Linked DNA regions of Homo sapiens: regions 2, 3, 4, 5 and 6 are each reported to be linked to region 1. The links are microRNA targets in miRTarBase. Many come from high-throughput screens and were not tested one by one. Region 1 holds a microRNA gene; each other region holds the end of a gene's coding sequence.
The links. Region 1 holds the annotated microRNA hsa-miR-3915 (UUGAGGAAAAGAUGGUCUUAUU, at 2,101-2,122, shown strand). A microRNA usually pairs through its seed, bases 2 to 8, with sites in the 3' UTR of a target mRNA and lowers its output. Matches are read on the target gene's strand: a 7mer-m8 pairs with bases 2 to 8, a 7mer-A1 pairs with bases 2 to 7 and ends in A, and an 8mer does both.

Region 1 (5,075 bases):
ATAAAAATTATCAAATGAAACTCAAAGATAACAGTGATCATAATACCCACCATACAAAATTACAGGGGAAATATAAGCAAGTATGCTGGAACAATAATATTCTTTTTTTTTTTTTTTTTTTTTTTTTTTTTTTGAGACGGAGTCCTGCTCTGTCACCCAGGCTGGAGTGCAGTGGCGCGATCTCGGCTCACTGTAAGCTCTGCCTCCCGGGTTCATGCCATTCTCCTACCTCAGACTCCCGAGTAGCTGGGACTGCAGGCGCCTGCCACCACGCCTGGCTAATTTTTTGTATTTTCTGTAGAGATGGGTTTCACTGTGTTAGCCAGGTTGGTCTTGATCTCCTGACCTCGTGATCCGCCAGCCTCGGCCTCCCAAAGTGCTGGGATTACAGGCGTGAGCCACCACGCCCGGCCACCCGGCCAATAATATTCTTTATGAATGCAAGTGTTAATACATTTACAAAAAATTTTTAAGTTTATTGATACATAATATTTGTACATACTTATAGAGTACATGTGATATTTTGTTACACTGTTGTATATAATTATATAGTCTTCCTACTCTGCTATCGAACATTAGAACTTATTCCTTCTATCTAAGCGTATGTACCCATTAAACAACCTCTCTTCATTCCATCCACACACTCTTCCCAGTCTCCAGTATCTATCATTCTAATCTCTAGCTCTATGAGATCCAATTTTTTAGCTCCCACATGTGAATGAGAACATGTGGTATTTGTCTTTCTGTGCCTGCTTATTTAACATAATGACCTCCAGTTCCATTTATGTTGTTGCAAATAGCTATATTTCATTCCTTTTTATGGCCAAATAACATTGCATTATGTATATATAACCTGTTATCTGTTTATCTGTTGATGGTTCTGAAAAAAAAATGCAAACTTTATGGTACTTTTTAAATTGAAGTATCAAGCAAAGGACATAAGTTATAATTATAGCTTAAAGACTTATTACAGAAGTAACATACTATGATTCCACATCCAGAAAAAGATAGTATGTTACCAGCAACCAGGAAACCTCCATCAAGCCCTATGGTATCATAAACTCTTCCCATCTCCTCAAAGGTAACATGTATCTTGAGTTATAATGCTGCAGGTTAGTCTTGCTATATTTTTAACTTGATGTAAATGAAACTTTTATATATGCAGTTTTTTAACTGGCTTTTTTCACTGGATACTATATTTGTGAGATTCACTATGTTGCATATAGCATTACTTTATTAATTTTCATCGCTGGATAGAATTACTTTGTATGAATATACCACATTTTACATATTCTGTTCAGAAAATTGGGGTTGTTTCCAGTTCGGAAGCATTACAAATAATTCATCTATCAACATAAATTGTACGTATATTTTTGTGTATATATGTAAACTTTTGTATTAGGTATTTACCTAAGAATAGCATTTCTTAATCATTGGGTATATGCATATTTAGCTTTCAAGATATTAACAAAGGGTTTTCCAAAGTTGTATAAATTCATATTCTCACCAGTAGTAAATGAAAGTACAAACTGCTTCATATCTTCTTGAATACTTGTTTGTTAAACTTTTTAATTTGAGCCTTTCTGGTGACTTTATAATGTCATCTCTCATTTTTCATTTGTATATACTGATGACCAGTGAGGCGGAATACTATTTCAGTTGTTATTGGCCATTTAAATGAACTCTTCTCTGAAATGCCTGTTTTTCTACTGGATTTTCTATATTTCTCTTACTGATTTATTTTAGTTTAAAATATATATATTCTGGGTATTCTTTGCTGTTTATATTACATTTTTCTTTTTGAATGGGTACCTTGCCTTTTCACTCCGTAATGATATATCTCTTCATAAACAGAAGTTTAAATTTAACATAGTTCACTTCAATATTTTCTGTTATGTTTAGTGTACTTTTGTCCTCAGTTTAAAAATAAAACTCTCTACTTTAAAATTCTGAAGCTATGGTCCTGGGTTGCTATATAGGAACTGTTTGTTTTACCTTTCGTATTACAATCCACCTATTATTACAGGTATGAGGAAGGGATGAATGTCCATTTTTTCCCATATAGATCCAACTGAAACAACAAGTTGGCACTGTAGAATATTGAGGAAAAGATGGTCTTATTGCAAAGATTTTCAATAAGACCATCCTTTCCTCAATATTCTGTGGTGTCATCTTTGACGAAAATATTAGAAATAAAATGCCTATACGTGCATGGATCAGTTTATGGACTCTAATCAGTTTTATTTCTCTACTTGCCTGTCCTCATGCTAATTCCACATTGTTTTAATTACTATAGCATTATGACAAGTTTTAATATATGGTAATATTTTTTTGAGATGGAGTTTCGCTGTTTCTACCCAGGCTGGAGTGCAGTGGCAAGATCTCAGCTCAATGCAACATCCGCCTCCCTGGTTCAAGCAATTCTCCTGCCTCAACCTCCTGAATAGCTGGGTTTGCAGGTGCCCACCATCATGCCTGGCTAATTTTTTTTGTATTTTGAGTAGAGACAGGGTTTCACCATGTTGGTCAGGTTGGTCTTGAACTCCTGACCTCAGGTGATCTGCCAGCCTCGGCCTGCCGAAGTGTTGGGATTGCAGGCGTGAGCTACCAGGCCCAGCCTGTATCTGGTAATATTGTAAAAGAAAAAATGCACCAGACAAACAGGCAAGAAAGACTTTATTCAAGACTACTGAATTATGGATCAAGACTATTGCCATAGGAGAGAGAGATGGAAATCATTTCTACTGAAAGAAAGACAGGAGAGAATTTAAGCACTGAGGAGAGCTAGTAGAAAAATACTGGAAGATATTAGGGGGTTAGGATGGTGATTAGGCAATCTGTGATTGTTAATTGGCACTTAATGAAGTTAGGCTCCTACTGTCCCACAGAGACTGGGAGATAGGCGTGCTATCATTAACAATTACATTTCAAAGAGATGGCTCCTAGGTCCTTGAGAAAGATATTCCCGGATTGTAGAAGATTTACATCTCAAAGAGGCAGAGAATATGTTTTTGGTTGCAAGTTTCCCTAAAGTAAGCGCTCTAAGAAAAGAGAGGTCAGGAGCCTATAGTCAAATAAAAGCCTGTCTAGAGTTTAGTCACATTAAGTTTGTTTTGGTCAGTTGGTCAGTAAAAGCCATTTTATTTTCTTCCTTTTTAAAGATTATCTTGACTGCTTTTGGCCATTTCGATCTCCATATGAATTTTAAGAACAGCTTGTGAACCCTGCCCCCAAAAAGAATCTGCTGTGGTTTTAATTGGATTTCATCTATTCTCTGGATCAACTTGTACAGAATCAACATTTTTATTATGTAAAGTCTTTCAATCCTTTCATTTAGTTAGGTCTTTATTTTCTCTCAATAATGTTTTATAGTTTTTAAAGTAAAGGCTCTTAAACTTTCTCTGAGATTTATTTCTTGGGTTTTTATATTTTTGCTGTTATGAATATATTTTTGAAATTTCATTTTCTATTTGTGCTGATATAAAGAAATACAGTTGATTTTTTTTCTTGGTCTTGTATCCAGGTACCATGCTACATTTACTTAATAATTTGAATACATTATCTGTAGTATTATTCAGATGTACATATATAGGTTGTTTTTGAGTAATGACAGTTTTCTTTCTCCCTTTCCAATTATTTTTCATGTCATTAATTTTCCCTGACATATTGTACTGTATAAATACTCTAGTACAATGGGAGTATTGTGGATATTTATTTCTCATTTTAAGTCTCAGAGGGAAGAACTTTAATAAATAATCATTAAGTATGATCTTTCCTGTAGGTTTGTTGTAGATACCTTCTGTTCTTAATATTCTAAGAGGTTTTATCACTACCGGATGCCAAATTTTATCATATATTTTTCCAGAATCATTTGAGATGGTCGTATTTTTCTTCTTTATTCTGCTATATGTCAAATCACATGACTTAGTTTTCTAATGCTAAAAAAGCCTTTCTTCCTGTAATAAACTAAACCTGGATAAGACGTATAATCTTTTTTGTGTATTGCTAGATTTTCTTTGATTCATAGTTTTTCCTTTACGTCCATGAAAGTGATTGGCCTGTTATTTTCCTTTCTTGTAATATGCTTGCTAGGTTTAAGTACCTGATTATGCAGGCTTGGTAACTGGCTTCATAACTGGAATTTGCAAATGGGAAATTTTAAAATTAAATTTTTATGTATTTAATACACATAAAAATGTCCATTTTTAATTGGAATTTCAACATTACATTTTTCCAGATTTTCCGTTTTGGAGTCAGCTCGAATCATTTGTGTCTTTCTAGGAATTGGTCTATTGCATCTAAAATTACAGATGTATTTAGATAAAGTTCTATTTAGTCCCTATGGTATTTAATAGTAGTTTATTAGCTACCATTGTTTGAAATTGAAAAAAATGTGACATGAACTAAGAATTTCTAACCTCTCTAGAGAAAGCAAATGATCTGATGATCCTTAGTCTGTTTTTCTACATAGTAACCAGAGCAGGAGTCAAGTTGCCCTGTTTTCTCTAGCACAGGCTCTTCATTTAGCCACAGTCCCCATTACTACCTATTCTGTTACACCTACATTATCTTATGCATTTTATTAGGTATGTACGTTAGAATTTGTGATTTCTTGTGGATGAAAAGTTGTGATGTCAAGAGTTGGCATGAGACATAGAGGGATATTTATCTTCTATGCACTTGCTTTCAAATAAGATACCTTTTGGAGCCCGTGCTCAGTGGCTCACGCCTGCAATCCCAGCACTTTGCGAGGCCGAGGCGGGCAGATCACTTGAGGTCAGGAGTTTGAGATGAGACCAGCCAACATGGTGAAACCCCATCTCTACTAAAATACAAAAAAGAGCCAGGTGTGGTGTCTCACACCTGTAATCCCAGCTACTTGGGAAACTGAGGCACAAGAATCCCTTGAACTTGGGTGGTGGAGGTTGCAGTGAGCCGAGATCGCGCCACTGCTCTCCAGCCTAGGGGACAGAGAAAGACTCTGTCTCAAAGAAAAAGAAAAAAAGGATACCTATTGGAATATGGCCCTGTTGTTTAAAATTGTAAAGGTAAAAATTTTCAATTCTTGTATAAAA
Region 2 (5,075 bases), not on the chromosome of region 1:
GTTTGTTTTTGGAGACAAGGTCTCGCTCTGTCGCCCAGGGCTGGAGTGCAGTGGCGCGATCATGGCTCACTGAAGCCTCGACTTCCAGGGCCCAAGCGATCCTCCTGCCTCAACCTCCCGGATAGCTGGGATTACAGGCGTGCACCACCACGCCCGGCTGGTATTGCTTTTTGTTTTGCTTCGTTTTCTTTTTTGCTTTTTGAGACAGAGTCTCACTCTGTTGCCCAGCTGGAGTGCAGTGGCGTGATCTCGGCTCACTGCAAGCTCTGCCTCCCGGGTTCACGCCATTCTCCTGCCTCAGCCTCCCGAGTAGCTGGGACTACAGGCGCCCGCCACCACGGCCGGCTAATTTTTTGTATTTTTAGTAGAGAAAGAGTTTCACTATGTAGGTCAGGCTGGTCTCGAACTCCTGACCTCGTGATCCGCCCAATCCGCCCACCTCGGCCTCCCAAAGTGCTGGGATTACAGGTGTGAGCCACCGCGCCCGGCTGTTTTGCTTTGTTTTCAACCACTAAAAGGCTGGATTCGTGTAACATACTGAATTCTGCTTTACAGAAGAAAACACCTCTTAGCTGTGTGACTGATTATAGGCAAGTTCTTGTGCCCCGGTTTCTGCATCAGAAAATGAAGCTTATAACAACAGTACTTGTCTCACAGTTTTAGGATAATTAAATTAGTTATATGTAAAGCAATTAAAACAGCTCCTGCCAAAGAGTAAACACCATATAAATATTCATTAAATAACATACAAACATACCAGGTTGGGAAAAATCAGTAAGCATAGGAGTCAGGAAATTCCAAGTTGGTTATCACAACTCTTGGCCCACAGGGCTTTAATCCAGGTGCCCTTGTCTCCTACCCTTGTTGCCATCCCAGTGTCTCCAGGGAGTAAGTAGAAATAAAGATCCTATCTCACCTCTTGGGCATTTTCCCCTCCCCTGAAAGCGTATAATCGCTTAGCACAGTCGGTGCTTAAGGGGCCAGGCTCCAAAGAAGATTAAAGGAACAGTTTGTGGGGTGCACTGGGCAGCAGTACTCTCCTCTGAGTTCAATCATCTTGCACTCTAAGAATCACCACCATGGCCCTTGTGCCAGGGAGAAGCAAGGAGGATGGGCTTTGGACTAGAAATAGCCCAGGCTCCTCCCAGCATCCAGAAAGTCCCAGGCTGCCCAACCCTCTCTGGGACAGAGGAAAAATTGGCAAGGTTGAAGGTCACCAGCACATTCAGGTTAGTACTTCCTCAGCCTGTGTCTGGCAGCTGGCTTACCCTCCAGTTTGGCCCAACCTCCCTGCTGTCCCTATTCAGGATTTCTCTCAAAAGTCCCATCTGCCGTCTATTGTGGTGGAATCCAGTGAGGTGAATGAAGAGAGTGGGGATCTCCATTTGCCCCATGAGGAGCTGCTGCTGCTCACTGATGGTGAGGAAGAGGATGCTGAGGCCTTCTTCCAAGACCAAAGTGAAGAGCCAGGTGAGGGAGGTGGCTCATTCAGGGGGCCACTGTGAGCTGAATGTTCTGGGCAGAGCCAAGATGGAAGTCAGTTACGGCCCCTGCATTCAGCAGTGCCAGGCACACAGCAGGTGCTCAATAAATGTGAAGATGTGGGAGAGAAAAGGCAGCTGGCAAAGTTGATGAATTGTAGAGAGCAGTTTTGGTATCAGAATGGGTGCCATCCTTTAATCTGTACTTTCTTTTTCTTCTTTTTTTTTTTTTTGAGACTGAGTCTCGCTCTGTCACCCAGACTGGAGTGCAGTGGCGCGATCTCAGCTCACTGCAAGCTCCGCCTCCTGGGTTCACGCCATTCTCCTGCCTCAGCCTCCCAAGCCGGCCAGTCTTGGGGTAATTTTATCTTTTCCTGCAGCAATGTAAACATTTTGAAAGTACAGATTAAGGCTGGCCGCGGTGGCTCACGCCTGTAATCCCAGCACTTTGGGAGGCTGAGGCGGGCAGATCACAAGGTCAGGAGATCGAGACCATCCTGGCTAACATGGTGAAACCCCGTCTCTACTAAAAATACAAAAAATTAGCCGGGCGTGGTGGCGGGCGCCTGTAGTCCCAGCTACTCGGGAGGCAGGAGAATGGCGTGAACCCGGGATGTGGAGTTTGCAGTAAGCTGAGATCCCACCACTGCACTCCAGCCTGGGCAAGAGCCAGATTCTGCCTCAAAAAAAACAAAAAACAAAAAAAATTACCCCAAGACCAACTACCTAAAAATAGTTTACATATTCGATACCTTCTCTTCTAGACTTTTTTCATCTCTGTGTACTGTTTTTTTGTTTGTTTGTTTTGGTTTTGGTTTTTTTTTTTGAGACAGAGTCTTGCTCTGTCCCCCAGGCTGGAGTGCAGTGGCAATGACCTCTGCTCACTGCAAGCCCTGCCTCCTGGGTTCGTGCCATTCTCCTGCCTCAGCCTCCCGAGTAGCTGGGACTACAGGCACCCGCCACCACGCCCAGCTAATTTTTTTGTATTTTTAGTAGAGACAGGGTTTCACTTTGTTCGCCAGGATCTCCTTACCTTGTGATCCGCCTGCCTGGGCCTCTCAAAGTGCTGGGATTACAGGCGTGAGCCACCGCGCCCGGCCCCGTCTGTGTACTGTTACAGAAGCTACTTTTTTTTTTTTTTTTTTTTTTGAGACAGAGTCACCCTCTGTTGCCCAGGCGGAGTGCAGTGGCAGGATCTCGGCTTACTGCAACCTCTGCCTCCCAGGTCCAAGCAAGTCTCCTGCCTCAGCCTCCTGAGTAGCTGGGGCTACAGGTTCAGGCCACCACGCCCGACTAATTTTTTTTGTATTTTAGTAGAGATGGGGTTTCACCATATTGCCCAGGCTGGTCTCAAACTCCTGAGCTCAGGCAATCTGCCCGCCTCAGCCTCCCAAGAAGCTACATTCTTTTGAGCATTTACTATGTACCAGGTACTATGCTAAACACTTTTACTTCATGATTTTCAGAACAACCCAATGAAGGTACTTCCCCTTTATAAATGAGAAAATTGAGGCTGCGAGGTTAGGCTCTTAGTGATATAATTGCTCTATTTTTTTATAAGCAAAAAATACCACAGAAATTAATTTTTAGCTCAAGTGCAGCAGCTTATCATGGCCCATTGCAGCTTTGACCTCCCAGGGTTCAAGCAGTCCTCCCAGCTCAGCCTCCTGAGTAGTTGGAACTACATGCCTGTGCCACTATCCCGGGCTCATTTGTTTTTGTAGAGTTAGGGGTGTCACTTTATTGCCAGGGCTCAAGCAATCTGCCCACCTTGGCCTCCCAAAGTGCTGTGATTATAGGTATGAGCCAGCATGCCTGGCCTAGTTTTGTAATTTGATAATATATCAGTAATATTTTTGTCCCCTCTCTTCCTCCATCCCAGGCTGGGCTTGGAGCCCACAGGACCCTAGAAGTCCTTTAAGAACATTTAACGCTGGACTCAGCTGGGGGCAGGACCAGGATGAAGAAGATGCTTGTTGGATTCTTGAGGACACAGCATGTCTGGAAGCCACCAACCACTGTCCCTTCTGGGACTCAACAGGCTCCCGTGTTTGTAGAAGTGGCTTTGTGGAATATTCCCATCTCCTGCCTCCTAATAGCTTTGAGGGTAAGTATTGTTCCCTCCCCCTCAAATATCTCATCCAGGTTTATGAAGCTCCTTATACCCATCCTCTTACAATCTCCTTTTACAGGTGACAAAAATGAGGCTTACAGGTTAGGCCACTAGATTATACAAGTCAGTCAGCGCAGGGGTTTTGATTCAGTTCCTGTCTGCTGCTTTTAGGAGCTCCAGTTAGTTGAAACTGGGGAATGACCCAATTGTACCTTCTCTTTTCAGCATTCATTTTGTGCTAAATATTGCGCACATCATTGTATGTAATCTCCGTAACTCCAAGTTATTCTCACTCTGCAGATGAGTAAACTGGGGAACAGAAACATTCAGCAATATGGCACCCAGCTAGTAAATGTGGAAGCCAGGACTCAAATTCTCACTTTGCAGCCAGATAGCTTGCAAAGACAGTTCTTCAGCCCTCTCCTTGCCCACAGAAATACTAGGGTCAGGACTACTAAAATGTCTTTAATGAGAGCCTTGAATCAAGTAAGCAAAGTAGGTGATGCCCCTGAACGGGCCTAGCTCCTGCACAGTCACAGTCCAGCCATAGGACCCTTGTTCCAGGCAGGGCAGTCGCACATCAGGGTCCTCATCTGAGAACTGAATCAGGGTCCCCTGAGGGTTTAGAACCCTCAAGCATTCTGATAGAAGCTGGTAAGCCCTAGGCAGACCTCCCCGGGCAACAGCATCCCATGTGCCTTTGTCCAGCAGTAGTTGGAAAGAGCCTGAAGAAGCCACAGCCCCCAGGTTCTGAGCATCGGCGTGCATGAAGTGGAGGCTTGAGGCAGGGTGTCCAGGGCATAGAGGTGTTTGGCCTGGGCCACCCTCCAGGAGGCTATTCATGTGGGCCACAGCCACAGGAGAAAAGTCCACCCCCAGCACATCCACTGGGTGTGGAGATTTGGTGTAGAGGCCTGTACATAGGCTGGAAGTCCCACAGCCCACATCCAGCACTCGCAGAGGACTGGCAGCCTGTGCCTCCTGCAGCAATGGCAGTAGGAGCCCCTGGACTTCGTCGTATCCAAAGAACCAGTCGAAGGTGGGGACAGTGCCCAAACGAGGCTGGGCATGCAGCCGATCCCAGAGACAGCGGTCCGCCAGGCAACTATCAGCCAGTGAGCCTGTGGGCACGGTTGGAGGGTGTCACTTGGTCTATGTCGCCACTGCAAAAACGTCGTATATACACACTGGCGTCTTTTTTTTTTTTGAGACAGGGTCTCACTCTGTGACCCAGGGTTGAGTACAGTAGCACAATGATGGCTCACTGAAGCCTCCACCTCAGCCTCCTGAGTAGCTAGGACTATAGGCGCCATCGTGCCCGGTTAATTTTTTTTGTAGACAGGGTCTCGCTATGTTGCCCTAGGTTGGTCTCGAACTCCTGGGCCAAGCGATCTGCCCGCCTCGGCCTGGCAAAGTGTTAGCATTACAGCCGTGAGCCACCACGCACGGCCCACCGTAGGGTTTGAGAATCACAATTTCAG
Region 3 (5,075 bases), not on the chromosome of region 1:
TGGGATTACAGGCATGAGCCACCACACCCGGCCCATAAATAATTTTTTAATGGAATAGGAGTAAAACAAAATTGTGTCAGTGTGGAAAGGAGTAGGGAAGGATTTGAGAAAATTAATAACTTTAGGGTTGTTAGGTATTCAAAGTCTCATTTAAATTGTTTTATAACTTAAGGCATAAATATTAACAGATTATTATTTATGTATTGCAGAGGAGAATTTGCGCTTTGGCTTGATGGAGATCTCTACCATGGAAGAAGCCATTCTTGTAAAACGTTTGGGAATCGTACACTTTCTAAGAAGGAAGATTTCTTTATCCAAGATATTGAAATCTGGGCTTTTGAATAAATAAAATGCTCTCTGTCTTAGCAGGAGAATGGCCCAAACCTGACATGGACAAGCATTGTTTGGAAAGTTCAAGAAGCAATACAGTGTAACATGTCACTTGTGCTTTAAAATTAGTCTGTATCACCATTTATTACAGTTATAATTTTGGAGTTTATTTTTCAAATCATGTTCTTGTCCCAGAGTTCTTTAGGTTAACACTAGGGACTGCGTCCATGTACTAGTATAACAGCTTGGGTTTGTTAGAATTTGGGCAACATTTTGATTATAATGACAACTTCATTTTCACATGTTACTCAGTTCCCTAATAGGATGGTGCTCTTTTGTTGAACCTGTATTGATTTTTTTTTTTTTAACTATATTGATTCGTTTACTAGAACAGTCTAATTGGGGCATTGAGGAAATGAAGACTGGATACTTCTGTATCTGTGAAGTTGGCACAGGTAACATTTGGACATGTTCATCTTATTCTTAGGAAGGAAAAAATCACTTGCCAAAATAATACATACTTCATAGACCACTGAGTTCTAGTTTTTATTCACACTACAACATTCTCTTTAACGATGTTGCAGGTATTCTCAATTTCCTTTTAAGAAAAATGAAATGTGAGGAGAATTCTGGTTGTAATAGATGACAGTACATATGATCTGCAGGTTTGGGCATATGCTTTCATCATTAAATTATCTGATAAAGTTACAAGTCACAAAGGAGAATGAGAACTTAATGATTCTATTGGATTTAATATATTAGCAAGAAAACATACTATTTACATATGTGTAGCTTAGTAAGGCATTAACATAAGTACAAAAACTATGAAACAGATGCATATTTCCTCAACATACTGTGTCAGGTATACTGTTTTATAATTTGGTTGTTTTAGCCTTATTGCACACCAACTCCCAAAATATAGGTTACTCTTGTTCAAAAGGAAAAAAAAAATTGTGATTTTCTTTGAGTGGTATATGTTATTAATTACCATTAGCATTTGCTCTTATAAAGGGCAATGATTATAGTAGACAATATTGTAACTCAGTAGACTTGTTGAATATGCAAACTTACTGTCAAGTGACCTCAAAAAAAAAATGAAAAGATAGAATACACTAGTAGTTCTTATCCTCTTTTGTAGGAAACCAATAATAGCCATTGTGGCAATAATTCATCAGTTGATTTTAAAGCTTCATGTTATGCAAAAAAGAATCCTGCTGTTATACATGTGACAGTGACTTTGTGCTGAAATTTCAGCTATTCCAGATAAACATTGTATATCTTGTAAATTAATGTTTAAAGGTGTAGTTTTGTTCTTACAGAAAGTGTTGATTGCCAGGTTGCTTATAGCACTTTAAGTTATTCTAAAAATGAAATTATAAGCCAAATATTTGGCTTAAGTAGATTTAGTTGTATAGCACTTACATATTTAGTTCTTTTGAAAGTTTAGATAATTATTTAAAGAAAGCATAATGCTAATGGAAAAGAAAATCTGATGTTCTATTATAATATGCTATTGCTGAATATGAATAGAAATACAGGGCATCATTTCCTTGTCTCATTATAAGTTAGTAACAATATATAGATTAAATGTTTACAATATAGGGAATTGTAAATAAATATATCAGTTTTTTTCCCCTTCGGTCTTCCACAGCAGTATTATTGTCTTTGTGGAGTTGACTAATGATAATTTAAAAATCCTGTAATGGATTTCTACTAAAATAAGGTCATAGTGGCATATACCAAATAAAATCAAATACAGAAATACAAATGAGTTTGGATTTATTGAATACTCATTTTCTTAACAAGTCTTTGATTAAGCCTACTACTATCTTTTTTTTTTTAATGCTTCTAATAGCTTACATTGTGGTGGTGGTGGTCATGGTGTTAGGAGTAATAGTGATAGGAGAATGCATTCAATTAGAGGGAGCATTACATTTTTTAAAATGGAGATGGGAGAAGGCACTTGACACATGGGAAAGTGTAAGTTATTTGATATTTTTAAAGTACATTGTTTTCATTTTGGGTGGAGAATGCATAACAAGCTAAGCCCCTTATCATAAACAGTTATGTGTGTGCAATGCCAAGAAATTTTGATATTTTGTATCCCGTAGGTTCAGTTAACATTTGAGAGGAGGAATGACATGATCAGGTGTATACTTTAGGAAAATATCTGTGAAAAATAGATGAGTAGAAGGAACAACTAGAGACAAGGGGAAAACAAGCCTTTTATAAAGTCCAGAAAAAAAATGATTAGGCCCGAATAAGAACAGTGGTAATGGTAATAAGGAAGCATGGATTTGGAAAGGATTTATGAGTTAGGATGAACAGGAGTTGATTATTGATTGGATGTCAGAAAAAGTTAAAGATAGCTCCCAGGATTTTGATTTAAGAGTTTAGTTGTATTATTTATCAAGATGGGCAAGGTACATAGAGGAAAAACAAAAAAAAGCAGGTGGCAAAATGAAGTTAGTCGTGGACTTTATGAGAGTATGATGTGAGAAACAGGAGAATAAACTTTTTGGGAGTAGGACATTTTATATACTATTCTGAAAGATGAACTTTAAAAGTCAACAAAAAACAATAAAACTCTTTCACTTTTTATATGCAAACAAATATGAAATTTATGTATTACCATTTGTAATACCATTGAAAATATCAGATATATAACAAAGTGAAGACCAAAATAGGAAGGATATACCATATTCATTACTGGCAGACAATATTGATTAAAAGATATCAGTTCTCTTAAATTATATTGACAGTGAAAATCTCACCCAGGCTTATTTTTTGGAAATTAAACTGATTGTAGAGTTTATATGGAAATGTAAAATCAAAGAATAGCTAAGCCATCATGGAAGAATTGAGTGTCTGGTCTTCAGTATCAGATAATCATGATTTATTAGAAAGCTGAGTAAGAAAGACAATATATTGGTCAAAAGTTCAGAAAGAAACTGATTTCTGAAGAAGGTGATACTGCTGTCTGCTCAGTAAAGAAGACAGTCTGTTCAATAAAAGATGGTGGATTAGGCCGGGTGTGGTGGCTCATGCCTGTAATCCCAGCACTTTGGGAGGCCAGGACAGGTGGATCACGAGGTCAGGAGATCGAGACCATCCTGGGTAACACGGTGAAACCCCGTCTGTACTAAAAATACAAAAAACTAACCGGGTGTGGTGGCGAACGCCTGTAGTCCCAGCTACTCGAGAGGCTGAGGCAGGAGAATGGCATGAACCTGGGAGGTGGAGCTTGCAGTGAGCAGAGATCGTGCCACTGCACTCCAGCCTGGGCGACTGAGCAAGACTCCGTCTCAAAAAAAAAAAAAAAAAGATGGTAGATTAATTGGATATCTATATGGAACAAAAAGTCTTATCTCACACCACAAACAATTAGAGATTGAAAAATAATTGTGAAAAGCAAAACAATAAAGACATTAGTTTATATAGGAGAATATCTTCATGACCTTAGGGTAAGCATATATTTCTTTAATGGGACACAAAAAGCACTAAATATAAAGGAAAAAAATAAATTATGCTACATTAAAACTTTAAGCACTTCATCAAAAGACATCATTGAAAGTAAGAAGGTGTCCAATAAGAGTGAAAGCTGTTGTTTTCTCCAACTTTTATTTTTGGTTTGAGGGTACATGTGAAGGTTGGTTTCATAGGTAGACACGTGTCACAGGGGTTTGTTGTACATACTATTTCATCACCCAGGTATTAAGCTTAGTACCCAACAGTTACCTTTTCTGTTACTTGCCATCCTCCCACACCCCCACTCCAGTAGACCATTTTGTCTGTTGTTTCCCTCCATGTGTTCATAAGTTCTCATCATTTGGCTCCTACTTATAAGTGAGAACATGTAGTATTTGGTTTTCTGTTCCTGCATTAGTATGCTAAGGGTAATAGCCTCCAGCTTTATCCGTGTTCCTGCAAAAGACATGATCTCATTCTTTTTATGGCTGCTTAGTATTCCATGGTATATATGTACCACATCTTCTTTATCCAGTCTGTCATTGATGAACATTTAGGTTGATTCCATGTCTTCGCTGTTGTGGATAGCGCTGCAGTGAACGTTCATATGCATGTGTCCTTATGGTAGAAAGATTTATATTTCTCTGGGTATATACCCAGTAATGGGATTGCTATGTTGAGTAGTAGTTCTGCTTTTAGGTCTTTGAAGAATCACCCCGGCTTCCTTACACCATACACAAAGAGCAGCTCAAGATGGATTAAAGACTTAAATGTAAAACCCAAAACTGAAAGCTGTTTTAAAAGGGAATGTAGAGTGGAACAACCTTGGAAAATGTTTCTGGCAGTATCCACTAAAGCTAAGTATACACATGACTTTGACCAGCAAATTTAATTCAGTGATATGTACTGAACAGTAATATGTATATGTGTTTACCAAGAGATGTGCTGGAATGTTTACAGAACTATTTGCTTGCTCTCTTCACTTCCCATCCTCTCTCCTCCTGTACACATACCCACACACCCTACTTATTAATTTACTGCATCTCATTGTTTCACTTTACCTATAAAGATGTGTATGCATTTCCTAAGAACAGAGATGTCCTCCTAAATAGCCAAAGTACAATGATCAGATTCAGGGAATTTAACATTAATACAATAATATGGTCTAATATGTAATTCATTTCAAATTTCTCCAGTGACCCTAATAATATCCTTTCAAGCATTATTTTTCCTGGTTCATGATCCAAAGATCCTGCATTGCATTCAATTGTTCTGCC
Region 4 (5,075 bases), not on the chromosome of region 1:
CTCAGTCCTCATCTGTGAAATGGTGCTAAAATACTATCTCACAGGCCGGTGTGGTCCAAGAGAATTTGTAGGAACGATTGGCCTATTGATAGGTGCTCATTTAAATCTGGCTTCTCCTCTTTCCTGGGGAACACACATATCTAGGATGAAGAAGTGTTGAGGTTGAAAATTAAAAGTTCACATTGATTGGGCACCTCACCCTGGCAGGCCATGGGATGCAGCGTTTTGTTTTTAAATATTTCATTTGGTCCTCAGCTCCTGGAGGAGTCTGAAGCTGGGAGGTCAAGGCACAGGAACAAGACGCTAAGGTTGGGATCTGAGCCCAGCGCCTGTCCAGCTCCAGGGCACTGTGCAGTGGTGGTTATGGCCAGGGGCTTGGGAGTCAGAGGTGTGGGACTAAAACCCAGTTTGTTCATTTCCTACTGGCATGTTAGTTACTTAACCCATTGGTGTCAGTTTCCTCCTTTGTAAAATGGGAGTAACAGCACCTACTTTATGAGACTTCCATGAGGATCCGAGGCCATGATGCCCGAAGCATTTAGCCCAATGCCTGGCACACAGCCTGCATTCAAACAATGGTGGCTCTTGTTATTTACTAATCTGGCCCCTAAACAGAACACCCAGGAAGTAAGACGATGAATGGGTCGGGGACGAACTAGTGAAAATGAAGACTCTCTGGAGAGGGTGGGTCTGCCTCCTGCCACTTCCCCTGACTCCCCCCGCCAGGAGCTCTGGGTCAGCCTGGTGGCCTGCAGCCAGCACAGGTGGCCCCTCATTTCCTTAGAGGGCATGCTCCACTGGCGGCCCGTGGGACAGTGGTGGCAGGGACATCCGGCCTCAGTCAAATGGTTCACGCTCCAAGCCCTGGCCCTGGCCACAGCAGGGAAATGAAGGGGCTCCTTGGGCCACCGCAGACACAGGGACTTATTGTGGTGACCATGCAAAGAGGCCTCAGGTCCCCGAGCAGGCACTGGGCCCTCAAGAGCCACCAGCCCCAAGTCTAGGGGACGAGGTAGAGGAGAGAGAACAGGGTAAGCAACAGCTTTGAGTCACCCCTAGTCCAAAAGGAGGCAAAGGTGACAGGTTGAGGAAGGTTGGATAAAATAATATTAGGAGAGGAGGAGCTTGGAAGTCAGGAGCCCAATGGAGCAGGTGGCGAAGAGCGTGGGCCGTGGGCAGCTGCAGACCCGGGTGCAAGCCCGAGCCTTCCTCCTAACCAGCTGCGTGAGCTTGAGCTAGTTATCCCACCTCTGACCTCTGTGGGTCCTGCCACAGTTACCTGGTAAGGTCACTGCCAAGGCTCTAAGTGACCAGGTAGGTAAAGCATTTAGTAATTAGCCAACTCTGTCTCAGTGTGATCTTAAGCAAGTCACACCAATGGTTCAAACACATCCACAGCCTGCTGGTCCCACGACTATAAATGCAGTTGCCACCCTTCCCTTCTGTGCTCCAGCCTGGGGCACTCTGGGTATTGCCTATTGTCCCTGGAGGTGTCAGTGTGGTTTACAAAACAGCCCCTTTTACATCATGGGCAGGTGGGAACAGGCCAGGTCACATGTTTCCACCCCTCCACAAGTCACCTGGCCTGCATGGGCTAGGGCCCACAGACCTGGGCTCAAGCTAACTGGCTGCAGTGGCTCCTCTCAGTCATCGTTTGGCCAGCTGAGCGTGTCTTTCCAAGACAGCAGTCATATGTGCCTTCTTGTGGCTGTACCAGGAACGAATCCTTCCCCAACAGACCAGGGTTTACGTCTCAGCAATACCATACCCCCAGGAAGGCCCCTGACCTCTGTACCTAAATTTCCTTCTCTCCAAAATGGGAGGGTGGCAGAATTCCTTCCAAAGGCTGTTGTAAGGAAACATACTGGGCCTTCAGCACACATATTCATCAGGATCCTCCAGAGACACAGAACAGGAGCAAGAGAGAGGTTTTAAGAATTTGCTCATGTGATTATGGAGGCTTACTAAGTCCAAAATCTGCATGGCAGCCCAGCAGGCTGGAGGCCCAAGGAAGAGCTGCAGCGATTCAGTGCAAGGGGAATCTGCTGGCAGAATTCCTTCCCGCGTGGAGAGCTCATTCTTCACTTTATGAAGACCTTCAGCTGATTAGACCACGCCCACCCACAGGATGAACGGTCACCTGCCTTGCTTTTTACTTTTAAAACTCCACTGATTTAAATGTTAATCTCATCCAAATACACCTTCACAGAAACACCCAGAATGTTTGACCAAATACCTGGGCACCATGCCCAGCCAAAGTGACACATAAAATTAACCATCACCACACAGGATAGTGGTTCTTACAACGAAAATGGGTAACGGGTATTTTTTTTTTTTTTTTTTGAGGCAGAGTCTCACTTTGTCACCCAGGCTGGAGTACAGTGGCGTGATCTCAGCTCACTGCAACCTCTGCTTTCCAGGTTCAAGAGATTCTCCTGTCTCAGCCTCCCCAAGTAGCTGGGATTACAGGTGCATGCTGCCATGCCTGGTTAATTTTTTTATTTTTAGTAGAGATGGGGTTTCACCATGTTGGCCAGCCAGGTCTCAAACTCCAGGCTTCAAGTGATCCGCCTATCTCGGCCTCCCAAAGTGCTGGGGTTACGGGCGTGAGCCACCGCACCCGGCCTTATGGGTAATATTTTTGAATCATCATGTGTCTGGCACTATTCTAAGCATGTGGAAGTGTTAACTCATTCAATTCTCATGATGACCCATGGCGGGGAGAGGGGGCGGTTACCCCATCTTATGGATGAAGAGATGGAAGGTCAGAGAGGTTGCATAACTTTGTGGCAATCATCTGGCTGGCGGGGGGGCAGTGAGCCAGGATGTGAACCCAGCCCCACCGCCTCCAACAGACAATTTCAAACATCAGCACCTACTGTTCCTTCTGTCACACTGAGAGCACTGTGCCCATGACCAGGTGACACATTGGCAATGACACCAGACTTAAAAGATGTTGGCTGCCCCCACCATCCCCTCCAGAAAGACCATCCACCACTGTGATTAAGTAACAGGCATTTTATTGGGTGGCATCTGAGCAAATCCCATTGCCACCTCACAGTGTAGAACCAGTAGAACTAAGAATACTCCAGCCTGTGCCCCCACCCAGCCACCTGCCCCGGCCCCTCATGGGAAATGACACATATCCTGGAAGGACACAGAACCCACACCCAGCCCAGCTGGCACCAGCACCCACCCCCATCCATGGGCCAGTGGCACTTGGGGAATGGCCACACCAGCTCCGGGTGGGGTCCCATGCAGGCATCCTGGAGGAAGACCCAACACTTTCACAGTCCCCTAAGAACCATCCTTGAAAGTCATGCTTTACAGATCTCTGACCACTCAGAATCCAAGCAGGAGGCATCTGTGGGAGGAATCGTGGTCACAGATTGGCTGCGTCAAAAAAAGAATGGGCCAGTGAGGGACTGGTCCACACAGAGCCACTCCCAGGCAGAGGAGGATTCTACAGGCAACGTCCTCGGCCCATGCTGACGAACCCAAGGCCAGGCCTCTGGGGGCTGGGAGAAGGGAGGGCCAATGTCTGCCTTGGCCTGTGTCACCATGGCACAGTGGTGGCTGAGCTCCTGCAGGGAAATCCCAGACCCTGAGACTGGCTCTAGGAGTGGAGGTCTCTACAGGTAGGGCCTGAGGATCAAAGGGAAGGCTGACATAGGACGAAGGCCCATCCAAGGTTTTCCAGAATCACGGCCTAAACCGGCAGGACCATCCCATCCCACGCCTTGGCAGGTGGCCTCCAGCGGCCCCCCAACCCCGCCATGTGGTGCAGACCGGGAATCACACAGGCCTCGGCCAAACACAGGCACCTGGAGTAAGGCATGCCAGCATCTAAGGTGTGTGGCTGGGGACAGGGGCCTACTGGCCCAGGTGGGTCTGGGCAAAGATACAGTGAGGAAGGTAGACAGCCCAGACCAGAGAGGGCAAGGCCAGCTGGTGCCCCCTGTGCCCCACAGGTCAGTCTGAGTTACACTTTACCCTGGACACCTGGAGGGGCAGGGATCAAGGCCAGGAGCCTCTGTGAGTGGTGAGGTTTGCCAAGGGGCCCAGAATGGCCTCCTTTTCCCCAAAGGATCCCAAGAGCTGCTCCATCTCCTTTCCCCAGGTCCCTGAGCCACTGGGCCCAGTGGAGGGCAGAGGGAGAACCTGCCAGGCACCAGGGTCATACCTCCCACATGGCCGATGGGATAAGGGGTAGTGGCCATGTTCCTCCCCAGCACGATCTCAAACCAGAGCCTGAGGCATGGGAGAGGCCAGAATACAGTGGTAAGAAGGGAGTCAAGCCCGGATTATAGAAAGGCAGCTGTGCATGAAGAAGGGGTGGAGGGGCTGGAGTGGGGTCTGTGCAGTGAGGTCGGCCACCTGGACGGACAGACAGCTGGACGGTGGAGCCCGAGAGGGGCTCACTGCATGTACGCGTAGCTCCAGTCCCCCAGGGGCTTATGTGTCTCCTTGATGACCTGCGGCGACGTCCAGCGCAGGATGTAGTGTGGGCCCCCTGGCTTGTCATTGGTTCCTGCGGAAAAGACACTTCTGTTTTTCTCTGAAAAGATGCAACAGCCTGGGCAGAAGGGGAAGGGAGGAGATGATGGAATCAACGGACCAGCAGTGTAGCGGCCAGCAGCGAGCCTGCTGCCAAGCTTGGGGCATGCAGAAGAGCCAGAGGGATGGACAGGAGACCCTGCCTCCAGTCTCCAGTCTGTGGGGAGCCTCCATTGTTCTCTCCAGTCGCACCCAGCCTTGCATCCTTGCTGGGATGCGAGGATGTCTAAGAGGCAGGGTGTGGCGTGGAGAGAACACTAGACTGAGAGGCAGGGACTTGGCATGGTCCTGGGGTGCCATAAGAGGTACATATCTAGCCTTCACCCCTGGTTCCTAGCCAGAATTCCTAAAGCTCTTGGAATTTCCAGAGTGATGGGGGTGAAAGGAGTGTCTTCCGTTATTCATAACAAGCCCCTTCTAATCACACATGAGTTTATGCTAATGAGGGCTCTTGCAGGATGGCACTGATTGGCAAAGGAACCAACCCTGTGATTAGAGGCTTGGAACCTTCAGCCCCA
Region 5 (5,075 bases), not on the chromosome of region 1:
AGACAAGATTTGGGAAAAAAAGATATAACCATCACCCTGGAGTTACGTAAGTACTGTGGCCTTGCCTTCAAAGACTTACTTTTAACTGTAATATATAGTCATAAAATTACTGGGGTGTGTTTTTCAGGGACTATATGGATCGTTTAGTAGATGAAACAGAAGCTTTGGGTGGGACGGTAAATGCTTCAGCCTTAACTTCTAACCGGCCTGAGCCTATTCCTGATCAACAGCTAAACATTCTCAACTCCTTCACTGCCAGTGACTTGACAGGTAAAATGAAGACCTTTCTGCATTTAGTACAGTTTGTTGCAAAATTGTGTCCTCTGTTTGATGTCATAGGACCACTTACTTAAACAATTTTCCATTCCTTTTTAGCTTTGACCAACAGTGTAGCAACCGTCTGCGACCCCACAGATGTGAATTGTTTGGATGATAGCTTTCCTCCACTGGGCAACACACCCCGTGGACAAGTTAATCATGTGCCTGTTGTAACAGAAGAGTTACTCACCCTGCCCAGCAATGGGGAAAGTGATTGTTTTAATTTATTTGAGACTGGATTTTATCACTCGGAGCTAAACCCTATGAACATGTGCAGTGAAGAGTCAGAGAGACCAGCAAAAAGATTGAAAATGGGCATTGCCGTCCCTGAATCCTTTATGAATGAAGTTTCTGTAAATAACCTGGGTGTGGACTTTGAAAATCACACACATCACATCACCAGTGCCAAAATGGCTGTTTCTGTGGCTGACTTTGGCAGTCTCTCTGCCAACGAGACCAATGGTTTCATCAGTGCCCATGCTCTGCATCAGCACGCGGCCCTACACTCTGAGTGACCTGAGTGAGGATCCCGGAACTGCGTGTGCAGCACCAGTAAACTTGAGGGGAGCTATCAGGTTTGCATAGTCTTTCACTGGAAGTTTGAACCTTTCTCACTATGACATCAGTGATGTCAGTATGTATAGAACTATATCTTGATTTATCAAGAGTATTTTCATTTTTCAATCCATAAATGTGGAAATGAACTATGATCAGCAGAGTTGGGAACTAAGATTGAACTCTGTGGTGCAGCTTTAAGCTCTGCTTCTCTCTTCCTCATCTCCCAATACCTCTTCCCCACTCCCTTCTTTTTCTATTCTTTTGTGTTCCCCACTGCCCTCACTCCCAATTTTAAAACCTGTAGACAGAGGCCACCAGCTCAAAACCAGCACAGATGTTCTGAACTGAATGGTGTGGCCTGTTTTTGTGTAAATTCCTTTTGCCGTAATGGATGCAGTGGAATAACAATGTTTACAGGTACCGATCCCGATCCCTGCTCAATGTAGCATTTTTTTGGTTTTATTTTCTTAATAAAAGCAGGGGTAGGTTTCTTTAAACTGCACAAACATGCAAGGATTTTTTAAAAATGGAAACTTCTCTCATGTTATTCAACTAGAGCACTTCAGTTTACAAAACAGCAAGTCCATCTTTATGGAAGCCAGCACAAGGAACTGTGTGCAAATAATGAAGACGCTTGCTTGGATCCTGTTTCAAAATTCTAGACCAGGGCTACCTTACACAGAATTGGTCATGTTACTGCCAGGAGATTTCTGTGTAACTTCATTTATTGGCTACAGTTTTGGCATTTGAAGATGTGGTACTCAGATGGGGTTTTGTCCACCATTGTCAAGATTGTAATCTTAAAAATCATACCAGTCATTGATAATTTAGTTTATCCTGAGGCAGTCGACTTGCAGAGGCACAGTCTACAAAGCCTAGGATGTTGCCACTCAATGGTTTACATTTTGGGACATCTTTTAAGTTGTTTGTAGCACTGCAGTTCAAAGTGTTAATATTTAGAGGGACTTCTAGATTTTATACCTAATGCAGTAGAACCTTGAAGTATATTTAAGCTTTTTTGTTAAGCTTGAACAGTTGGCAAGAATAATGTGAGTTCCTATCTGAAATAGAATGGTACATTACCACTTTTAAGTTTTAAAAATTGATAGATGTTCAGATGTATCTCAAACTCAGTTTTATTTTTATTCCAAATATTGTGAATGAGAAGCCATTGTCCTAAACTTTGGCCATTTTTGTGCTATAAACATGCATTTTTAAGTTATAAGGTGAATCAAACAATATGTAATACAGTATTAGGATGTAATCTTTGCTTTTGTAGTACTGTTAAAATAGAGAATTATGTTGTTTGCACCGTCTTAATTAAAATTCTTGATTTTTACTAGTTGCTTTGCAAAAAACAAATGTTTGGCTGCATTGCTAATATTTGTAAGTATAAGTTGCTTCAAGGTTGTGCTGATGAGTAGATAGGATGTAGTGATCTTAGTAGTGATTGAAAGGGAGGGTATTTATTATACAAACTGTGAACTGCAATGACATCCTTAGTTTTGGATGATGTGTATTCTTGTTTTTCTTTGCAGCATTTTAATGAAGATTGCTTTGAAGTGTTTACGCAGTAGCACATTAGTATAAAATTTAGTTTAGCACAGTGGACAAAAAGTAGTTAAATTAATAACTTAAAATCAGTCTCTAATTTATACATCTGAAGTATAGCATTCCTGTATGCACACAGTAAATAATGGGTAGCCTGGGCTCTGTGTTACTTTCTTGTATTTTTATCCAAGTTGTCAGCTTCTTATTGCTGTGTTGTTGTGCTAAACTTTGAACCTTATTTCTTTTATTAAAAATCAGTACACTTTCTATAATTTAGTAAGATACTGGCCATAATCTTCCATTGTTATAACCTTAATTTTCACTCTGGGTTTACAGTGGCTGGTCTGTATAAATAATTTACACAAAGATGACTGAATGCTAATACCAGTTGCACTTAAATGAACATGCCCATTCTCAGTAGCTGATGCAGTAATATATTCAGTTTATCTATGCATTGCTGGGGTCTTGATATAAGATGGAAACAGTGTTTCTTATCTAAAGTTTTGATTATCAGCAAGTTGAATGGACACTTTAGTTATTTAAATAAAGATTTTTGACCAAAATCCAGAAAATGGTATGAGAGAAAAATAAATTCCAGCTAGTTTAATAGATTTTTAAATGTCAATCTGATTTTAGCCTCTTAGAGAGTGCTAACTAGCTGGTAATGTTTACTTTTAATTCCTTGTTAAAATGAGGCAATAATTTGCAAGATTTTTGTATATAAGTGTAAATTCTTCATATCTTTTTAGATCTAATTCAATATTTTCTGACTACTTCTGCCATGTATAATACCATTTTTGTGCATGCTTGATGTGACATTCATAAATTGTACCACTATGACTTTATCCATGTAAAATAGCTATTTATTGAATTTTCTTTTAAAAGCTGGATTTACTGGGTTTTTTTTTTCTCTCAGTTTAAACATCTTAACAGAGAATTTGTTACTGTTTATTAAAAGAATTGCATTTGGAAGCAAGAAAACAACCGGATTTGCAATCATGTGAAGAAACAATAATGCCTTTATTATCAAGTGTTAAGCACAATTCTTATAACAAACTGTGATAAATTCTTTTTGTTTTTTTTTCCTTTGCCCCATTATTTTCTTATGAACAAACCAAAAATTCATGGTGAGCAGTTGCAGTGTTGGCTGATATATCTTTTATGTACAGGGAATTTGAAAAGGACAGTGGATTCATTTAGAAGTGTAACTGGTGCTGTGATTATAGCAATACATTTGTTAGTTGTACTTCATCTTTTTCATGCTAGCTTTTTAAATGTTTAGTTTTCCTCTTGTCATGGTCAGCTGCTGAATTTACTTGAAGGATGTAGAATACTGTTTAAAAAATACTAAAATTTGTACAATTAGATCAAAGAATTGTGCAATCATTTCCTTTTTAATTTTTAAAATGTTGAGGCTCATAAATATTTGAGAACATCAGATCTAATAGAGCATAGTGATACTATTTAATTTAACCAAAGTCTCTAGTGAATATTTCAACTTTGAATGTAAACTAACAAATAAACCTGACCACCAAGGAGATTGTTTGCCCAGAGTTTCAAAGCACATTGTCTACAAATGGAAATTGAAATAATTTATAAAATATTGACGTTACTATGTTTTTTAAAAAGTTCCTAATTTTTTCACTAAATGGAGGAAACTATTAGTTTTATTGTTAAATATGGTAGATATTAATATTCCTCTTAGATGACCAGTGATTCCAATTGTCCCAGTTTGAAATAAGTACCCTGTGAGTATGAGATAAATTAGTGACAATCAGAACAAGTTTCAGTATCAGATGTTCAAGAGGAAGTTGCTATTGCATTGATTTTAATATTTGTACATAAACACTGATTTTTTTGAGCATTATTTTGTATTTGTTGTACTTTAATACCTGGTGTACAGTTCCAGAAATAAAAATCTGGGAATCTTTTTTTCTTGGTTTGTGTGAATATTTGCCAAAAATACAGATATTTTATTTAATGAATCTTAAGCTACAGCAAATAGATAGATATTATACCACTGTTAAATTGGTTTTAGATGCAGTAAATAAGATATATGATAGATAGTGAAGTTGGTAGATTAAATATTTTCCTTAAATCCTCTATAATTTCCATCTATAATAAAAGTCCCCCTGTAATCCCAACACTTTGAGAGGCCGAGGCGGGCAGATCATGAGGTCAGGAGTTCAAGACCAGCCTGACCAACATAGTGAAACCCCGTCTCTACTAAAAATACAAAAATCAGCCGAGCGAGGTGGCGCATGCCTGTAACCCCAGCTACTCAGGAGGCTGAGGCAGGAAAATTGCTTGAACCCTGGGGGTGGTGGTTGCAGTGAGCTGAGATCCTGCCATTGCACTCCAGCCTGGACAACAGACTGAGACTCCATCTCAAAAAAAAAAAAAAAAAGAAGTCCCAAAGTAAGGATTATACTTTTAGTTTAATTCAGGAAACATTTATTATGTTTCAAACGCTGTTCTAGGTAACTGTCTTTTATGAAGACAGACAGATCTGAAATTTGGTCAAATATTATTATTATTTGACAGACTACATTTATGGTCAACTAGTCTTCCTTATCCATACGATTCATAGTTTGACCGTAGTCATATCTATCTTTCCTAAACATCTTTTTAAGCTAAAGCTCCTATCT
Region 6 (5,075 bases), not on the chromosome of region 1:
TGGCCAACATGGTGAGACCCTGTCTCTACTAAAAATGCAAAAATTAGCCAGGTGTGGTGGCGTGCGCCTGTAGTCCCAGCTACTCAGGAGGCTAAGGCAGGAGAATTGCTTCAACCTAGGAGGCAGAGGTTGCAGTGAGCCGAGATTATGCCATTGCACTCTAGCCTGGGTGACAGAGTGTCAAGATTCCATCTCAAAAAAAAATCACCCTAGTTGCCACTCTGGCCTGGTTGCCCATCATGGTAATTGTGTCCACTTTGCCTGTGATAGCTCAGTGCTGCCGCCTGGCCTCTGTTGACCAGTCATCCCATTAATAACAGGGAACTCTGTTCTGTGGCAGAATCTCCTACTATTAACCCTGCTGAGGCAGCTGTCACTGAACAATCCCGGTGCTCCCCTCACTTCATCCTTTATTGTCTGAGTGAACGGGAAGCTATTTGGGCCTTCCGAGATAACATAGGTGTTTGGTTCTCAGATCTCGTGTAAGAAATTCATTTTAACACACGCTGAGTCTGCTGACACCCTTTCTCTGCTCATCATTTTAGCAGCTCTACCTCATTTACTGTAGGCCATCATTCCTCGCCAAGTATTGGATTTTTTTCTTTTCAGAGAGACAGGGGTCTCATTATATTGCCTAGGCTAGTTTCCAACTCCTGGGCTCAAGCAGTCCTCCCATCTCAGCTTCCTGAGTAGCTGGGACTACAGATGTGTGCCACCACGCCCAGCTAATTTTTATTTTTGTAGAGACTGGGTCTCACTATGTTGCCCAGGCTGGGCTTGAACTCCTGAGTTCAAGCGATTCTCCTGCCTTACCCTCCCAGAGTGCTGAGATTACAGGCGTGAGCCACTGCACCCAGCTGATTAATACATGAAAACCACTCGGAAAAGAGCCAGGCAACGCTGACACAGAGTATATGCCATGTATCAGCTACTGCTACCATCACTTGCAAATCCCATCTCCTCTACAATCTCAACTCTGAAAACAGTATCATTCCACTCCATCTTTACTGAACCTGCCCAGGCTTGATGCTGGTTAGATGGAGGAGGATGAGGAGTATAATCAAAGAAAACTTACAAAATTTTGATCCTGACAGGTTTACAGAAATTTTAAGAGGGGGCAATAAATGGGAAAGTGGGATCTGGTTTGAAACATACTATGAAACTGTAGAAAGTCCAGGTGTAACTGCTCTGCAGTCCACTGGAGACCCACGACTGAGGCTTGGGAGAGCCATCAGGACATGGGCAGGTTTTTTTCTTCTTCTTCGAGACAGTCTCGCTCTGTCACCCAGGCTGGAGTGCAGCAGCATTATCTCAGCTCACTGCAACCTCTGCCTCCTGGGTTCAAGTGATTCTCCTGCCTCAGCCTCCCGAGTAGCTGGGATTACAGGCATGTGCCACCAAGCCTAATTTTTCTATTTTTAGTAGAGACAGAGTTTTACCGTGTTGGCCAGGCTAGTCTCAAACTCTCACCTCGTGATCCGCCCGCCTTGGCCTCCCAAAGTGCTGGGATTACAGCCATGAGAACACAGATTTAAAATTTATTTGCATAGGCTGGGCGTAGTGGCACATGCTTGTAATCCCAGCACTTTCGGAGGCCGAGGCAGGCAGATCATGAGGTCAGGAGTTCAAGACCAGCCTGGCCAACATGGTGAAATCCCGTTGTCTATTAAAAATACAAAAGTTAGCTGGGCGTGGTGGTGGGCGCCTGTAATCTCAGATACTAGTGAGGCTGAGGTTGCAGTGAGCCGAGATTGGTCCACTGCACTCCAGCCTGGGCAAGAGCAAGACTCCATCTCAAAAAAAAAAAATGGCAATCTATAAAGTAATTTCATTTCATTTTTGAGACTGTCTTGCTCTGTTATCGTGTGGTGGTGCAATCACAGGGGCTCACTGCAGGCTCAACTTCCTAGGCTCAAGCAGTCCTCTCACCTCAGCCTCCCGAGTAGCTGGGACCACAAGTGTGCACCACCACACCCAGCTAATTTTTTTTTTGAGATGGAGTCTCACTCTGTTGCCCAGGCTGGAGTACAATGGAGCAATCTTGGTTCACCGCAACCACTGCCACCTGCATTTAAGCGATTCTCCTCCCTCAGTCTCCTGAGTAGCTGGGATTACAGGCACGTGCCACCACACCTGGCTGATATATATATATAATTTTTTTTTTTTTAGGAGAGAGAGCATTTCACCATGTTGGTCAGGCTGGTCTCGAACTCCTGACCTTGTGATCCGCCCACCTCGGCCTCCCAAAGTGCTAGGATTACAACTGTGAGCCACTGCGCTCAGCCCTAATTTTTTTTTTTTAATTTTGTTGTAGAGATAGGGTCTTGCCACGTTGCCTAGGCTGGTCTGAAGAGATTCTACTGCCTTGGCCTCCCTAAGTGTTGGGATTATAAGCATGAGCCACTGTACCTAGCCTATAAAGAAATTTTAGGGCCAGGCATGGTGGCTCACGCCTATAATCCCAGCACTTTGAGGCTGAGGCCGGCAGATTGCTAGAGCTCAGTTTAAGACCAGCCTGGGCAACATGGTGAAACCCCATCTCTACTAAAAATACAAAAATTAGCTGGGGCGTGGTGGTGCACACCTGTAGTCCCAGCTACTCTAGAGACTGAGGCACGGGAAGTGCTTGAACCCGGGAGGCAGAGGCAGCAGTGAGCCAAGATGGTGCCACTGCATTCCTGCCTGAGCAACAGTGCTAGACTCTGTCTCAAAAAAAAAAAAAAAAAAAAAATTAAGTCAACTTTCAAATTCCATTTATAGTTACCAACATGTCTTGTCTTTTTTTTTTGAGATGGAGTTTCGCTTTTCTTGCCCAGGCTGGAGTTCAATGGCGCGATCTCAGCTCACCACAACCTGCGCCTCCCGGGTTCAAGTAGTTCTCCTGGCTCAGCCTCCTGAGTAGCTAGGATTATAGGCATGTGCCACCATGCCCGGCTAATTTTGTGTTTTTAGTAGAGACGGGGTTTCTCCATGTTGGTCAGGCTGGTCTAGAACTCCAGACCTCAGGTGATCTGCCTGCCTTGGCCTCCCAGAGTGCTGGGATTACAGGCATGAGCCACTGCACCCAGCCAACATGTCTTGTTTTAACTGAAATATATGGTCCAAACATTGCACAAAACCACACTCAATCTCTTCTGAAAAACTATTCTGTTTAATAGTGCACTTCATTTATGCTACAGGATGAGCAGGGTTGGGAAAACACAATGGAAGGTCATCCCGTCGGTTGGGAAAACTCGGGGAGTGCCATCCTCACCCAGCAACGAGCTCTGCTACCAGGCTCAGGCACAGCCTGCCTTCTCTGGGCTTCGTTTTTTTGTTTTTTTGTTTTTTTTTTCTCCCTTTTGGGCTTTGCTCTTTCTCTGCATTAATCTTCAGCTGCTGAAGAGTCAGAGGTGGAGGCAGGAGTGGTCTGGCTCCTGGGGCTGGGTGTCAGAGGTGAGAGGGCAGGGCAAGCAGGCCAAGTGAGCTCCTTGAAAGCATCCTTACCCAGGCATTTAGAGAAAATCATTTTCATCATTGGAGTGGGAAGAGGACAAGAGAGGACAGCAATCAGAGGCCAACGCTAAGTGCTTCTGACCCTCTCCCTCACAGCCGGTTACTAGCTGTTTGGACAGATTTGCCCATTCAGCCCCAGGACAACTGGGGGGGATGGCAGGGGGTCTGCTGGCAATATCACCAGGTTTCTCTTGGAAACATGGTCTGGCTGCTCCAAGAGCCCTAAAGGACACCATCATCACAGATGATGATTCTGGAATCTCTTCTACCCTCAATAAAATAATCCCTCAATGCCAAATTTCCATAATTAACGAAATCATGAAACAAAACAGCATGTTTCTTACCGAAACTTAAAGCTGGACTAGGAACAGTAGCTTTGAAATAGTCTCCCTTTACCCTCCCTAGCAAATAACAGGACCCAGAGCGTCCTTTCCACTGCTGTCTGTGCTGACTACGCGGACTCCAACTAAAGGAATCCATCGAATTCTGTCCCGACTGTGCTTCCATCCCCACCTTGGAAAGGTTCCTCTGCTGTGAGAAAAACAGTTTAGTGCAAACTCCTTTCCTAAATGGGGTAACTGGTCCCAGAGCTGCTTTCTATTCCCAGCACGCCATCCACTTGCCTTGACGCTTTCTAAGGCTGGTGTGATTTCTGGGAAAATTCAACGATTTGCCCCATCTGCCCCATTCTCTAAAATGAAAAGTCTGAGTTGAAAGGGACACATCCTAAGCTGTTGAGATTTATAGGGTAAGGCAAGAGCTCTTGAGACTCAGGGAAAGTGAGGAAAATGGGTGTGTGGCTCTTTCACGTGGACTCTCTGATATTTAACTCGGTCGTAACTCTGAGGGAGCTTTTGCTCATGCCGATCCCATTCAAAGGCTTCTCTCCAGTGTGAATTCTCTGATGGCGAACAAGAGCCGAGCTGTACCTGAAGGCTTTCCCACACTCACTACATTCATAGGGGTTCTCCCCGGTGTGGATTCTTTGATGCTGAATAAGGCCTGAACTGTAGGTAAACTTTCCTCCACATTCCATACATTCGTAGGGCTTCTCTCCAGTGTGGATTCTCTGGTGCTGATAGAGGTGTGAGCTCTGGCTGAAGGCTTTCCCACATTCATTACATTCATAGGGTTTTTCTCCAGTGTGGATTCTCTGATGGTGAATAAGGGTTGAGCTCCTGCTGAAGGCCTTCCCACATTCATTGCAGGCGTAGGGTTTCTCACCAGTGTGGATTCTCTGATGGTGGGTGAGGGTGGAGCTCCAGCTGAAGGTCTTCCCACACTCATTACATTCATAGGGTTTCTCCCCCGTGTGGATCCTCCGATGCAGAATGAGGGCAGAGCTACAGCTGAAGGTTTTCCCACAATCACTACATTCATAAGGTTTTTCCCCAGTGTGGATTCTCTGATGCTGAATAAGGTGTGAGCTCTGGCTGAAGGCCTTCCCACACTCATTACATTCATAGGGCTTTTCCCCAGTGTGGATTCTCTGATGTTGAATAAGGTCTGAAGTTCGATTAAAGCTCTTGCTACATTCATCACACTTATGGGGTCTGTCTCCCACGGGGAGTCTCTGATGT

Region 2: the mRNA of CSKMT is a reported target of hsa-miR-3915. Seed matches in the 3' UTR shown: 7mer-A1 at 3,466-3,472.
Region 3: the mRNA of OXR1 is a reported target of hsa-miR-3915. Seed matches in the 3' UTR shown: 8mer at 1,172-1,179.
Region 4: the mRNA of ALDH4A1 is a reported target of hsa-miR-3915. Seed matches in the 3' UTR shown: 7mer-m8 at 3,908-3,914.
Region 5: miRTarBase lists MIER3 as a target of hsa-miR-3915. Seed matches in the 3' UTR shown: 7mer-m8 at 1,089-1,095.
Region 6: the mRNA of ZNF3 is a reported target of hsa-miR-3915. Seed matches in the 3' UTR shown: 7mer-m8 at 4,276-4,282.

What each region holds. Positions count from the first base shown.
Region 1 is chrX:32,580,758-32,585,832 of GRCh38, reverse strand. It overlaps MIR3915 (microRNA 3915), which reads left to right and starts at 2,081; the gene lies at 2,081-2,177. All of the region lies in intron 13 of DMD (dystrophin), which reads left to right. RefSeq lists an enhancer at 2,625-3,252.
Region 2 is chr11:62,666,036-62,671,110 of GRCh38, reverse strand. CSKMT (citrate synthase lysine methyltransferase) reads right to left here. Exons shown (of 3, transcript NM_001043229.2): 3 at 3,003-4,715. The coding sequence ends at 4,060. LBHD1 (LBH domain containing 1) reads left to right here. Exons shown (of 7, transcript NM_024099.5): 2 at 1,070-1,229; 3 at 1,308-1,470; 4 at 3,364-3,588. The coding sequence starts at 1,080. Among named protein-coding and RNA genes, the nearest start is that of UQCC3, 3.1 kb to the left of the region's middle. RefSeq lists enhancers at 1-12, 13-754, 4,452-4,551, 4,572-4,621, 4,672-4,781.
Region 3 is chr8:106,750,597-106,755,671 of GRCh38, forward strand. OXR1 (oxidation resistance 1) reads left to right here. Exons shown (of 17, transcript NM_001198533.2): 17 at 210-2,098. The coding sequence ends at 345. Among named protein-coding and RNA genes, the nearest start is that of ABRA, 17 kb to the right of the region's middle.
Region 4 is chr1:18,868,427-18,873,501 of GRCh38, forward strand. It overlaps ALDH4A1 (aldehyde dehydrogenase 4 family member A1), which reads right to left. Exons shown (of 15, transcript NM_003748.4): 15 at 3,004-4,531. The coding sequence ends at 4,419. Among named protein-coding and RNA genes, the nearest start is that of TAS1R2, 11 kb to the left of the region's middle.
Region 5 is chr5:56,918,886-56,923,960 of GRCh38, reverse strand. It overlaps MIER3 (MIER family member 3), which reads left to right. Exons shown (of 13, transcript NM_001297599.2): 11 at 1-46; 12 at 128-270; 13 at 376-4,358. The coding sequence ends at 833. It also overlaps a transcript of SETD9 not described here. Among named protein-coding and RNA genes, the nearest start is that of SETD9, 12 kb to the right of the region's middle.
Region 6 is chr7:100,066,843-100,071,917 of GRCh38, forward strand. It overlaps ZNF3 (zinc finger protein 3), which reads right to left. Exons shown (of 6, transcript NM_032924.5): 6 at 3,131-5,075. The coding sequence ends at 4,301. Among named protein-coding and RNA genes, the nearest start is that of ZNF3, 12 kb to the right of the region's middle.